2 separate regions of the Homo sapiens genome follow, and region 2 is linked to region 1. Evidence: fine-mapped expression QTL. A gene starts in region 1. The other region holds a variant in brackets. All regions are shown on one strand. Distances are from middle to middle.

Evidence for each region. PIP is the estimated chance that this variant, and not a neighbour inherited with it, causes the effect.
Region 2: its variant is fine-mapped to the expression of KIF3A in nucleus accumbens (GTEx, PIP 0.94).

The regions. Positions count from the first base shown.
Region 1 is chr5:132,735,280-132,740,536 of GRCh38, reverse strand. It overlaps KIF3A (kinesin family member 3A), which reads left to right and starts at 2,991. Exons shown (of 19, transcript NM_001300791.2): 1 at 2,991-3,123. The coding sequence starts at 3,118. RefSeq lists a silencer at 3,127-3,436 and an enhancer at 3,587-3,686.
Region 2 is chr5:132,705,543-132,711,054 of GRCh38, reverse strand. KIF3A (kinesin family member 3A) reads left to right here. Exons shown (of 19, transcript NM_001300791.2): 9 at 1-96; 10 at 2,077-2,148; 11 at 4,596-4,604. Among named protein-coding and RNA genes, the nearest start is that of KIF3A, 29 kb to the left of the region's middle. The variant T/G (reference allele first, on the strand shown) is at 3,396.

The DNA of each region.
Region 1 (5,257 bases):
ACAAAACAAACAAACAAACAAACAAAAAAACAAACCCCGGGCCGGGCACGGTGGCTCACGCCTGTAATCTCAGCACTTTGGGAGGCGGAGGCGGGCGGATCACGAGGTCAGGAGATTGAGACCATCCTGGCTAACACAATGAAACCCCGTCTTTACTAAAAATACAAAAAAAAAAAAAAAAAAAAAATTAGCCAGGCGTGGTGGCGGGCTCCTGTAGTCCCAGCTACTCAGGAGGCTGAGGCAGGAGAATGGGTGAACCCAGGAGGCGGAGCTTGCAGTGAGCCGAGATGGCACCACTGCACTCCAGCCTGGGCGACAGAGTGAGACTCCGTCTCAAAAACAAAAACAAAAAACCCTGAAAAATAGGTTATAGACCTGAATGTGACAGCTAAAACTATAAAACTCTAGGTAAATCTTCATAATCTTGGGTTAGGAAATGGTTTCTTACTTATCAAAAGCATAGTGACAAAAGAAAAAATATGTAAATTGGACTTGATCAAAATTTAAAACTTTTGTGCTTCAAAGGACGATATCCATAAAGTAAAAAGAAAACCCACAGAATGGGGGAAAATATTTGCATGTCATATACTTGAAAAGGGCTTTGCATTCAGATTATGTAGAGAACTCTTACAGCTTAATAATGAAAAGGCAAATAAAATGGGTAAAGGGTTTGAATGGACATTTCTCCAAAGAAGTTATACAAATTGCAACAGCACATGAAAAAAAATGCTCAACATCATTATGATCAGGGAAATGAAAATAAATAAATACTCCAGCAAGATACTACTTTACACAAAAGTGAGTGTTGGCAAGGATGTGGAGAAATTGTAAACTTTACATGTTACTGGTGGGAATTTAAAATGGTGCACTACTGTGGAAAACAACTTGGCAGTTCCTCAAAATGTTAAACATTAGCATTACCAAATGATCCAGCAATTCTACTTCTACATATGTAACCAAGAGGAATGAAAACATAGGCTCATACAAAAACTTGTAGCAGCATTATTCACGATAGGCAAAAAGTAGAAACAACCCAAATATCCATCAATGACAAATAGGTAAAAAAACATGTTATAGCCATGCAATGGAATATTATTCAGCCATAAAAAGTAACAAATTGCTGATATATGCTATAATAGGGATACAGCTTGAAAACTTTGTAAGTGAAAGAAGTTACTCACAAAAGGCTGCATATTGTGTAATTTCATTTATATGAAATGTCCAGAATAGGCAAATCCACAGAGATAGAAAGTAGATTGGTGGGTTGTCTAGGTCTGGGATGTTGGGAGTGGGGTGGGAGGAGGGTTGCAGAGAGCAAGGGGGAGTGGCTTATGAGTACAGAATGTCTTTTTGGAATGATAAAAATGTTCTAGGTTATGGTTGCACAACTCCATATATAGTAAGAACTATTGACTTGTACAATTTAAATCGGTGATTGTATGGTATGGTGTGTAAATTATATCTCAGTAAAGCTTGTATGTGTGTATATATAAAATATTGAATGGTGATAGGTACTATGGAGAAATATAAAGTGGGGAGGGAAAAAAAGAAGAGTTTGGGCTGAAGGTTGAAATTTTAAATAAGGAAATCATGTTAGGGTTCACTGGGGTTATGTGAACAAAGACTTTCTGGAGGAGGTGAGTGGTCAGGTGGTTTTTTAGGGAAAGAGCTGTCTAGGCTGCCTGGGTTTGGACCTGGGCTCTGCCATTGTTTATATGTATGACCTTGGAAAAGTTATTTAATGGTCCTGTGCCTCAATTACTTTATCTGTAAAATAATAATAAATAGTATCTATTTCAAAAGGTTATTGTGTGGATTAAATGAATTAAAAAACGAAAGCATGTAGAACAGTACACTGGCACTATGTAAAATGCTTTATCTTTATTTCTATCAGTTCCTACTGCAAGCTCACAGCCCTTGCATGCTAAGATGGAAGCACGACGGGAATGTTGGATGAAGCAAGGAGGCCAGGTGGGGCTGGTGCAGAAGAAGCAAGAGGGAGGATTGTAGGGCTTGTGGCTTTAGCTTTGTAAGATGGGAAATCAATGGAGGGTTTTGAGCAGAGAAAAGAGAAGATCTGATTCATGTTTTAGCACCAGCACTCTGGCTCCTGTCCAGCACACTGAAAAGGGACAAGGACACACAATCAAGGAAACCAGTTCTGAGCGATTGTAGTAATGCACGTGAGAGACGATGGTGGTGGTAGAAGTGGCCAAATTCTGGTTCCACTACAAAGATAGATACAACAGGCTGTATTTAAAGATAGAATATTGTGTATGAAAGAGACTGCAATTTTGACCTGAGCAGTTGTCGGAATTAAGCTCCCACATATTGAGATGAAGAAAGTCTGAGAGGGATGAGAGAGAGCCCTTTTAAATTTTTTGATGGGGGTGGAGTGGGTAGTGGGGCGATTGATGGGGGATCAAGATTTCAATTCTGGACATGATTAACTTGAAATGCCCATTACACATTCAAGTGGACTAGAAAGAGGATGGACGGATCACTGGTTCTTTGACCAACACGTATAAAAATCCCACTCTGTGCCAGGCTCTGTGTGGGCTCTGGAGATAGATGTGAGAATACTAACAATCTCCTTAAGAGAGCTCACTTTCTAATGGTAAGACAGGTCATGAGGAAGTTAGCAATCAAGCGAGGTCAGGTAGGTAAGGTCTTCAATTCTTCGGATGAGACAAAATGTACAATTGCTATTACTGATTTTAATATTCCGGGTATTGCAAGGGCCAGAAGACGGGCCTAAGAGCAGCTCCTCCTCCCAACCCCGGGCTGCCAGGTTACCTCCGCCTCAGTGCGTGCCACATTTCTAGCGCAGCAGAATGGCAGCATTGCGCACGCGCGGCCTCAGTCTGGCGTCCTAGGAGATGGACTCGGAAAGCCTCCGCGCAGGCGTAATTCAAGGGCCGAGAGAGCCTGAGACTGGGCTTGGGGCGGGGCGAGCTCGGAATGCGGCTGCGCACTGGGCGCTCTCGCCCGAGAAGCCGCAGTCTCGAGAGCGTCAACGAGGTGTTTCGGTAGTCTCTGGCCATCCTTTCTGCGCACCCGGTGTCGCTGGGCTGCACCCCGGGCGGGGACGTCCGCCGGGCACGGGAGGGGGCCAAGATGCCGGTGAGGAGAGTCGCTTCGCTTCTGGGGTTTCTTCTCATCCTAGCGGCCTGGCCCGGGGGCGCGGCCGTTGCCATGGAGGCGCGGAGCCGGCAGGCGGCCTGGGTGGGGCGGGGCAGGCTCGGTCGTGCGGTGGAGGTGGTTGGAGAGCCTGGCTGGTCAGCCCCGGGGCCGCGGGGGTCCGGCCGGCCTCGACAGGGACCTGGGGTCAGGCCCTGCCGCCCTCGTCGCTGCTGCATCCCGTGGGGCCTGCGCCGCTTATCAAAAAGGCGCTGTGCTGGAGGATGCGCTCTGGCTCGCAGCCCTTCCTGCTGAGCGGGGCGTCTGGGGGTGGCCACGGTGGGGCTCTTTGGATGCTGCACACCTGGTGAGGCCTTTGCGCCTCGGAGCAAGCGCAGGGAGGCAGCGGAGCGAAGGCTGCCTGCCCCTATTCCAGGCCCCATACTCCGAGTCTCCTAGCCTTGAGCTGTCATTGCTCTTGTGGCGCTTTAGCTTATGATGCAGAATGAAACCCGTAGGTGTCTTTGTGTGTGTGGCGGTGTTATGTTTATCTTCCAGGATTTCACAGATTGTTATCGTGAACTTAATAATGGGGCCTTCTAAGACCCCTTATTAGGGGTCATGGAGGAAAATTGAGCCATGGCCGCTTATTTAGTGGTTGTGAGGCCTCGGATAATTATTTAATCTGTCTGGGTCCTTAGTTCCCATGTAAACTTTACCTCATGGGGTTGTTATCCGCGTGAAATAATACACAGGAGACTAGAAGGACAGTGCTTGACATTTAAGATTAAATGCTCTATATTTGTTCTGTTCACTGCTTTCAAGTTTTAATTCAGTAAATATTGGGCACCAACCACATGCTAGGCCCTGAAGATACAACATTGAGCAACACCAGTCAGGTTCTTGAACTTGGAAAGAGAGAGGCTTGCCTTCTTGGGCAGAGGTGAAAATCATACATATTTACAGACGTAAGACACAAAACCTTAATAATGAAGTGGGTGGGTATCCTACAATAGAGAGAAGTAGATTCTGGTGAATTGGAATGTATTGCCATGTAAGAATGATGGTCTGCAGATGATAACAGGTCATTTTTTTTCCTCCCAAGAAGAGACTTTAGAAATTATTTTTGTGAAATTTCTCAATTTTAGCAACTAATTCAAAAGCTCTTTAAATACTATGAACCAAACAAAAGAAATTTGTGGGCTGAATTCAGCCTCTTGACTACCTGTTTGCAACCTCTGGTGTAGACAGAAAGACATTAATCAAATAAGGAACAAGCAAAAGTAAAATTTGTGTCCAGGAAGGGGAGAGCAGGGTGCTCTCTGAGCCTATAAGAGTATTTGACCTAGTCAGGAAGTCTTCCCAGGTGAAGTGGCTGTTGAGTTCTGAAGGATAAGTAGATGTTAACTAAGTGAAGAGGGGATTGAAGATGGTTCTAGGTAGAAGGAACAGCACATGGAAAGGCCAGTGGTGAGGAGCATGGTGACAAGAAAAGGCCAAGCAGCTCAGTGTGGCTGTGGCATGGATGAGCCAGGCAGAATATCTTGTGAAATAAGCCCAGTGAAGCAGACGTGGGTGGAAGCCAGACCTTACAGACCACCTTAAGGATTCTGGTTTTTGTTCTGAGATCTATGGGAAACCACTGAAGAATTTTTAAGTAGGAGAGTGACATGATTAGATGTGTGTTGACACTGACTGCTATTTGGAGAATAGGCAGTAGGGCAATCTGATTAGATTCAGGAGTATAGTTAGGAGGCAGTAATCCAGGGCCAAGATGATGGTGATTTAGACTAGGGTGATGAATAGATGAGAGGAATAGGATGAGAGATAGATAGAAGTGTATTGTACTGATATAATCTGTTACTTGTCAGTGACAATGTCAGAGTCAATGACAATGACTCATATTTGTTTCTCTTCAATGCTTAGAAGAGAATCTGAAACAGTAGGAATTTAACAAGTATCTGTTCAACTAAACTGTCCTTTTCACTTCAATAATAGGATTGTGTTTCATTATATTTTCTTAATCATAAAATTTCAGAAATGACGGGGTGCGGTGGCACATGCCTGTAATCTCAGCACTTTGGGAGGCCGAGGTGGGTGGATCACTTGCGGTCAGGAGTTCGAGACCAGCCTGGCC
Region 2 (5,512 bases), 30 kb after region 1:
AAGAAATATCAGGCTCTGATATCAGTGGGTCAGAGGAAGATGATGATGAAGAGGGTGAGGTTGGAGAAGATGGAGAGAAAAGGAAAAAAAGAAGGGGTAAGTTCTGTTTAGTAATCTGATTTGTAGAAATTAGGTGGTTTCACAAGGTGGTAGAGTGCATGACTTTTATTTTGCCGTTATCTGTTTAATATATTAGATAACAATTAGAACAGAAGATGTATGCCATTTACCTGGTTAACTTTGCATTTTTTCTCCTGTATTGATCCGTTTATAGCTGACTTTGAATATATGTTCTGTTTTTTTAGAATTTAGAATTGTAAGACTCTATAATACTGGGTATGCCATTTTAAAATTTCCTGTGTGTTTTAATTTTATGTAGGGACTTACATCTGTGTTAGGAACCTAAGTTTTTTTGTTTGTTTGTTTGTTTGTTTGTTTTGAGACGGAGTCTCATTCTGTCGCCCAGGCTGGAGTGCAGTGGCGCGATCTCGGCTCACTGCAACCTCCACCTCCCAGGTTGAAGCGATTCTCCTGCCTCAGCCTCCCGAGTAGCTGGGACTATAGGCAAATGCCACCTCGCCCGGCTAATTTTTTGTATTTTTAGTAGAGACGGGGTTTCACCCTGTTAGCCAGGCTGGTCTTGATCTCCTGACCTCATGATCCATCTGCCTCGGCCTCCCAAAGTGCTGGGACTACAGGCGTGAGCCACCATGCCTGGCTGGAACCTAAGTATTTTAAGGAAATTAGGATAATGTGGAGTTTTTCCACAAACAAGATTAGTCTTTAAAAGTCATTGAATTTTTAAATAGTAAATTTGTATGAGGAATTCCATTTTTAAATTTAGTTCTTTTTCTTTATAAAATGTATTCTCATTCTCACTCTGTTGTGGGGGATTTGTTGCCACGTGTGAATTAAGACTGTTTATTATGATCAGAATATAGATAATATGCAAATGAAATGGACATATTATAATGGCCTACATTTCAAACCTTTTTACCATAAATATTTATTTCAGAACTCTCTTCCATTAATGTGGTCATTGTTTTCAAGCTGGTGCATATTTTGTTTGTCTTATTAAAATGATTGTGCTAAAAATAAACCCATCACTGCTTGATTAGGAGTCCCAAATTTAAAAACTATAAAGATTTTGTAACTTCAAAAGACAGAAAAATAATGATTTATGGCAAAAATTGGCAAAATGTCTGCTGGCTAAATCCAGCTCACCACCTGTTTTTGTAAATAAAATTTTATTAAAACAGCCATGCTCATTTATTTACATATGCTCTATGGCTGCTTTCACATGAAGCCGTATGGCCTGCAAAGTCTCAAACACTTATCTGTCCTTTTGCAGAAAACGTTTGCCTGATTTAGAGAAATTTTTTTTGTTCACACCTAGTTTTTCACAGAGTAGATTATTATTTTCAAAGCTAAAGCTGATAACAGATTTGTTAAAAATAAAATTTTAAATAGAAAAATGCCAGTAATATGTTAAAATATTTAACAATAATGTATCTTCCTTCCAGGCTTAGAAATTTAAAAATTTTCAGTGAGCCTTTTGAAAGTTTTGCTATCAAACCTTAAACATATTTGATAGTTTGATATTTTGGGGGAGGGAGAGACTGAAAGTGGAGATAGACTAACCTATTATGAAGGGTAATTTATCACTCCTATAATATTTATTGTGTATGACTTTGAGTTTTAAAACTCCATTCCTTTAACTTATCAACCTAAATAGTTTCAGTAGACTAAAATCTCACCAAATGACTTCTTTATTTTTTATTCTTGTCATTTCAACCCTTTGAATGATTAGGCTTTAGGTGACCAGTAGGATCTGCCCACAGTAGTTGCTTAAAGCAGTACACTTTCTAATTCCTCTGTATGGCTTTGTAAAGTAGAGAATATTGGATAAACTACCAAGATTGGTTTTTAGGAAAGTAAATTTTGGTTCTTTAATACAAAGCTTGATTGTCCTTTAAAATTTTTTTCTCTGAAAACTGAATTTTTCTCTGTGTGTGTGTTCATTTTCTTGTTTCCTCTTTCTTTGGTTCCTGTTGGGCTCATTTCTTTGTTTTCCAGGCAGTAGCAGCAGCAGTAGTTCAGACTCCACATGTTCTGTCATAGAGAAACCTCTGGATAAGTTCTTGCCTAGTGAGTGGTAGCTCTTACATTCTCTAACAGAGCTTTGGCTTTTCCATAACCCATGGGCTTCATTTGAGCAATGCTGCACCACTCCCTGTCATTACCTAAAGAATACATGTTGGATTCCTCAGTAGAACAAAGCATGTGATGATTCCTCCACCCCCTTTCATTGCTTCCAGTTAATCATAATTGTTAAAACATAGGCTTTAGCTTATGTTTGAGACAATGGAAGAGAGATTCATGCTTTTGCAATTGAGATAATGTAAAGAGAGCTAGTAAGCTGTATAAAAGAATAATTCTTATGCTTATTTTTTAGGTTTCATGACACATTTCTAATCCTGCTCAGAATAAGGGACACGTAACATCAAATCTTGTATTTCTAAAAGTACAAATTATATTTGAAGTACACCAGTGCCCATTATAACATGTCGTACAATTACAAATTTTTTACACTTTGGTGTCCTATTCTTAGTGGTAGCTTAAGATTAAAGGCTCCCAAATAAAGAAAAACATAAAGCTTGAAGCAAGTAAAGATGAATTGAATAGTGTTTTATTTCAAATGGACATTTATCCATATTTCTGTATTACCTGATAGATTTTAAGAAAAGTTCTTTCTTTTTTTTTTTTTTTTTTTGAGACGGAGTCTTGCTCTTTTGCCTAGGCCGGAGTGCAGTGGCGCAGTCTTGGCTCACTGCAAGCTCCGCCTCCCGGGTTCACGCCATTCTCCTGCCTCAGCTTCCCGAGTAGCTAGGACTACAGGTGCCCGCCACCACTCCTGGCTAATTTTTGTATTTTTAGTAGAGACGGGGTTTCACCGTGTTAGCCAGGATGGTCCCGATCTCCTGACCTCATGATCTGCCCGCCTCGGCCTCCCAAAGTGCTGGGATTATAGGCGTGAGCCACTGCGCCCGGCTGATTTTAAGAGATTTTCTAAGGTATGATTAGAGAATGCAGAATCACGTGGATTTTATGCAGGATCCATCTAGACTTATTTCAAACTTAAAGGCTTTTGTTAAAACAATTTAATTAAGTTGAAAAGTGTTATTTAATTTAATTTATTTATATTTTATTTTCAGAAGAAAGGGGAGTAGTGTTGCTTTCTTGTACCAGCCTGCAGCTTACTGTCTTTTAAAGCATTATCTATATACTTACCCTTTCAAAACTAATGACAAAAATAATTGCTTATTGTTCTTATGCTTTTAGCTTTCTAGAAGAATAATTCCAAGAATATTAGAAATCTCCTTCTCTATTGACAA[T/G]TTGTAGGCAAGTTACCAAAACAATTCATTTCAAAGGATAATTTGTAAAATACTTGGAATTGCATTAGAAACCACATAGAGGTATTACTTTGTATAATAAACTGTGAAATATGCGAAAATATTTGAGTGGGAGGCGTTGCAATTTAGTTTTCTGTTTTAAAACTTAATTCTTAAAGAGTAGTTATATGAAAGTATGTTATGAAATGAGTTGTACTTTGTTCAATTCAAGAAGTTTTAATTCCTATTTGCGTACCTAGCACATAATTTTTTTCTTGTAATGTGGGCGTGTTGGTGAAGTGGAGAGATGGTTGTCCTAGCATGTGGTTGCTGTGTGTACCTTCCCTTTTAAATATCTCAATGGCCTTTTTAAAAGGTGTTTCTTGCTTGAGTCCTTAATTGGCAGTGACTCCTGTAGAATCATTGTTTATAATTACCCTTAAAAATCTACTAATAGAAGGAATGTAAGTTTGTTACTGTACAGGTATACTTCATTTTATGTAATAATTTTATTTTCTGGAAAAAAAAAAAAGCCCTTAATCCGGTTGGGAAATCGGATGTATTGGGAGAACTTGTGTCTTTAAAAATTCTTCATTAGACCTTTCTGTTAATCAAATAATCAGTGGAAATTACTGTAATCTAATTTATCTGTTGGATTGGTTCAGGTTTTTGTGTTAGATTTTCTTAAAGTGAAGCATGCCTATAATAGATCCATATACTAAAAGAAATATTGAATTGGGACATTTTTGATATGGACAGTGTGAATTTTGTCACTTTAAATGTACTAGTTGTTAAAATTGCCTTAATTTTCTGTTTTGCCCTTTTAGATTACTTCCCAGATCTTAGCAGGTTCCTAATTCCATGTCTTCTGTTAGCATAACCACATGGTGTTGAACTGTGACCTTTGCAGGACTTGGGGAATCAGTGTGAGATCTTGAGATTGACTTGAGTTATAATCTAAGACTAAGTTAACTTTAATATTCTTGCTTAAATGACATCTCTCGTTGTGTTGAATATGCTTTCTTTTTACATGGGCTCTATTTCAGTTTTGATAACGGTTTGATTTTTATTTCTACACTTAAATGAATGCTATTATATATTTTTCTTTGTTTCACAAGAGAAATAATGTTTTCCTTTTTTTCCTCCTCATCTCTGTGCGTATTGCTTCCTGTCTGCGATTTGCTTACTACTTCTTATTGCAAGATCAAGCAGGTTGGTGTGATTGATTTGCACTCCACATGGTACAATTATTTATCCTATAAAGAACTATGTTATTTAAATACATTAAATTTTTAAAATTTAGTAGTTTTTTTACCAGGTAAGTATCTATCTTTTGTATTTTTAACAATCTTTCAACTTTAGCTTTTAAAAAGAACTTCATTTTTTTCCCTAAATTCTTAAAGACTCATTAAGCCAAAGTTTGGAAATACAAGTGTAAATTATTTCACATTCAAACATTTTTCTCCTTTTTTCTTAAAGCCAAGAATCAAATACCTGGTTATGCCGTGGTTGCTTATGTAATAAAAATGAAATTAATTCAATTAGGACTGCCCTGAAGTTCTTCCCCTTTGACTTACCCTGGCCGGTTAACGTTCACAATATTGGTTAGAGCACATGGCAAAGGGCAATAAAAAAATGTTGCTACTTATGTCTGGTTTAGTTAAATACTGTTTATGGCATTAACTTTTAAAAATATTTATTTACCTGAAATTTTGTGCTGAATTTTATCATGCATTGTTAGAAATAGATTTCTTTTTTGTTTGATTGGTTTAAGAAGGTTTTTTTAAAAAAAAGTCCTTTGAAAAATACATATAAAAGTGACTTTTACTGATGTCACATTTTTAAATACCTGGTTAGGAGAGTTAGCACATATTCACATTTAGCTTAAAATATTATTTGTGGAGAAATATAATGATTTGTCAGAGTGATTCTGGCTAAAGTAATATGTTACTTAAATATTAGGCTTTTGAAACTAACCCTGGCTATATATCTTTGATTGTCTTCATGAAAGTGTTACAAGACCACAATAAGATTTTTGCTGCTAAAGTATCAGTTTGGAAACATACCTGAATGGTTTTAAATTACTAATGTAATGCATTAATGCATGAACAGTTATGTGT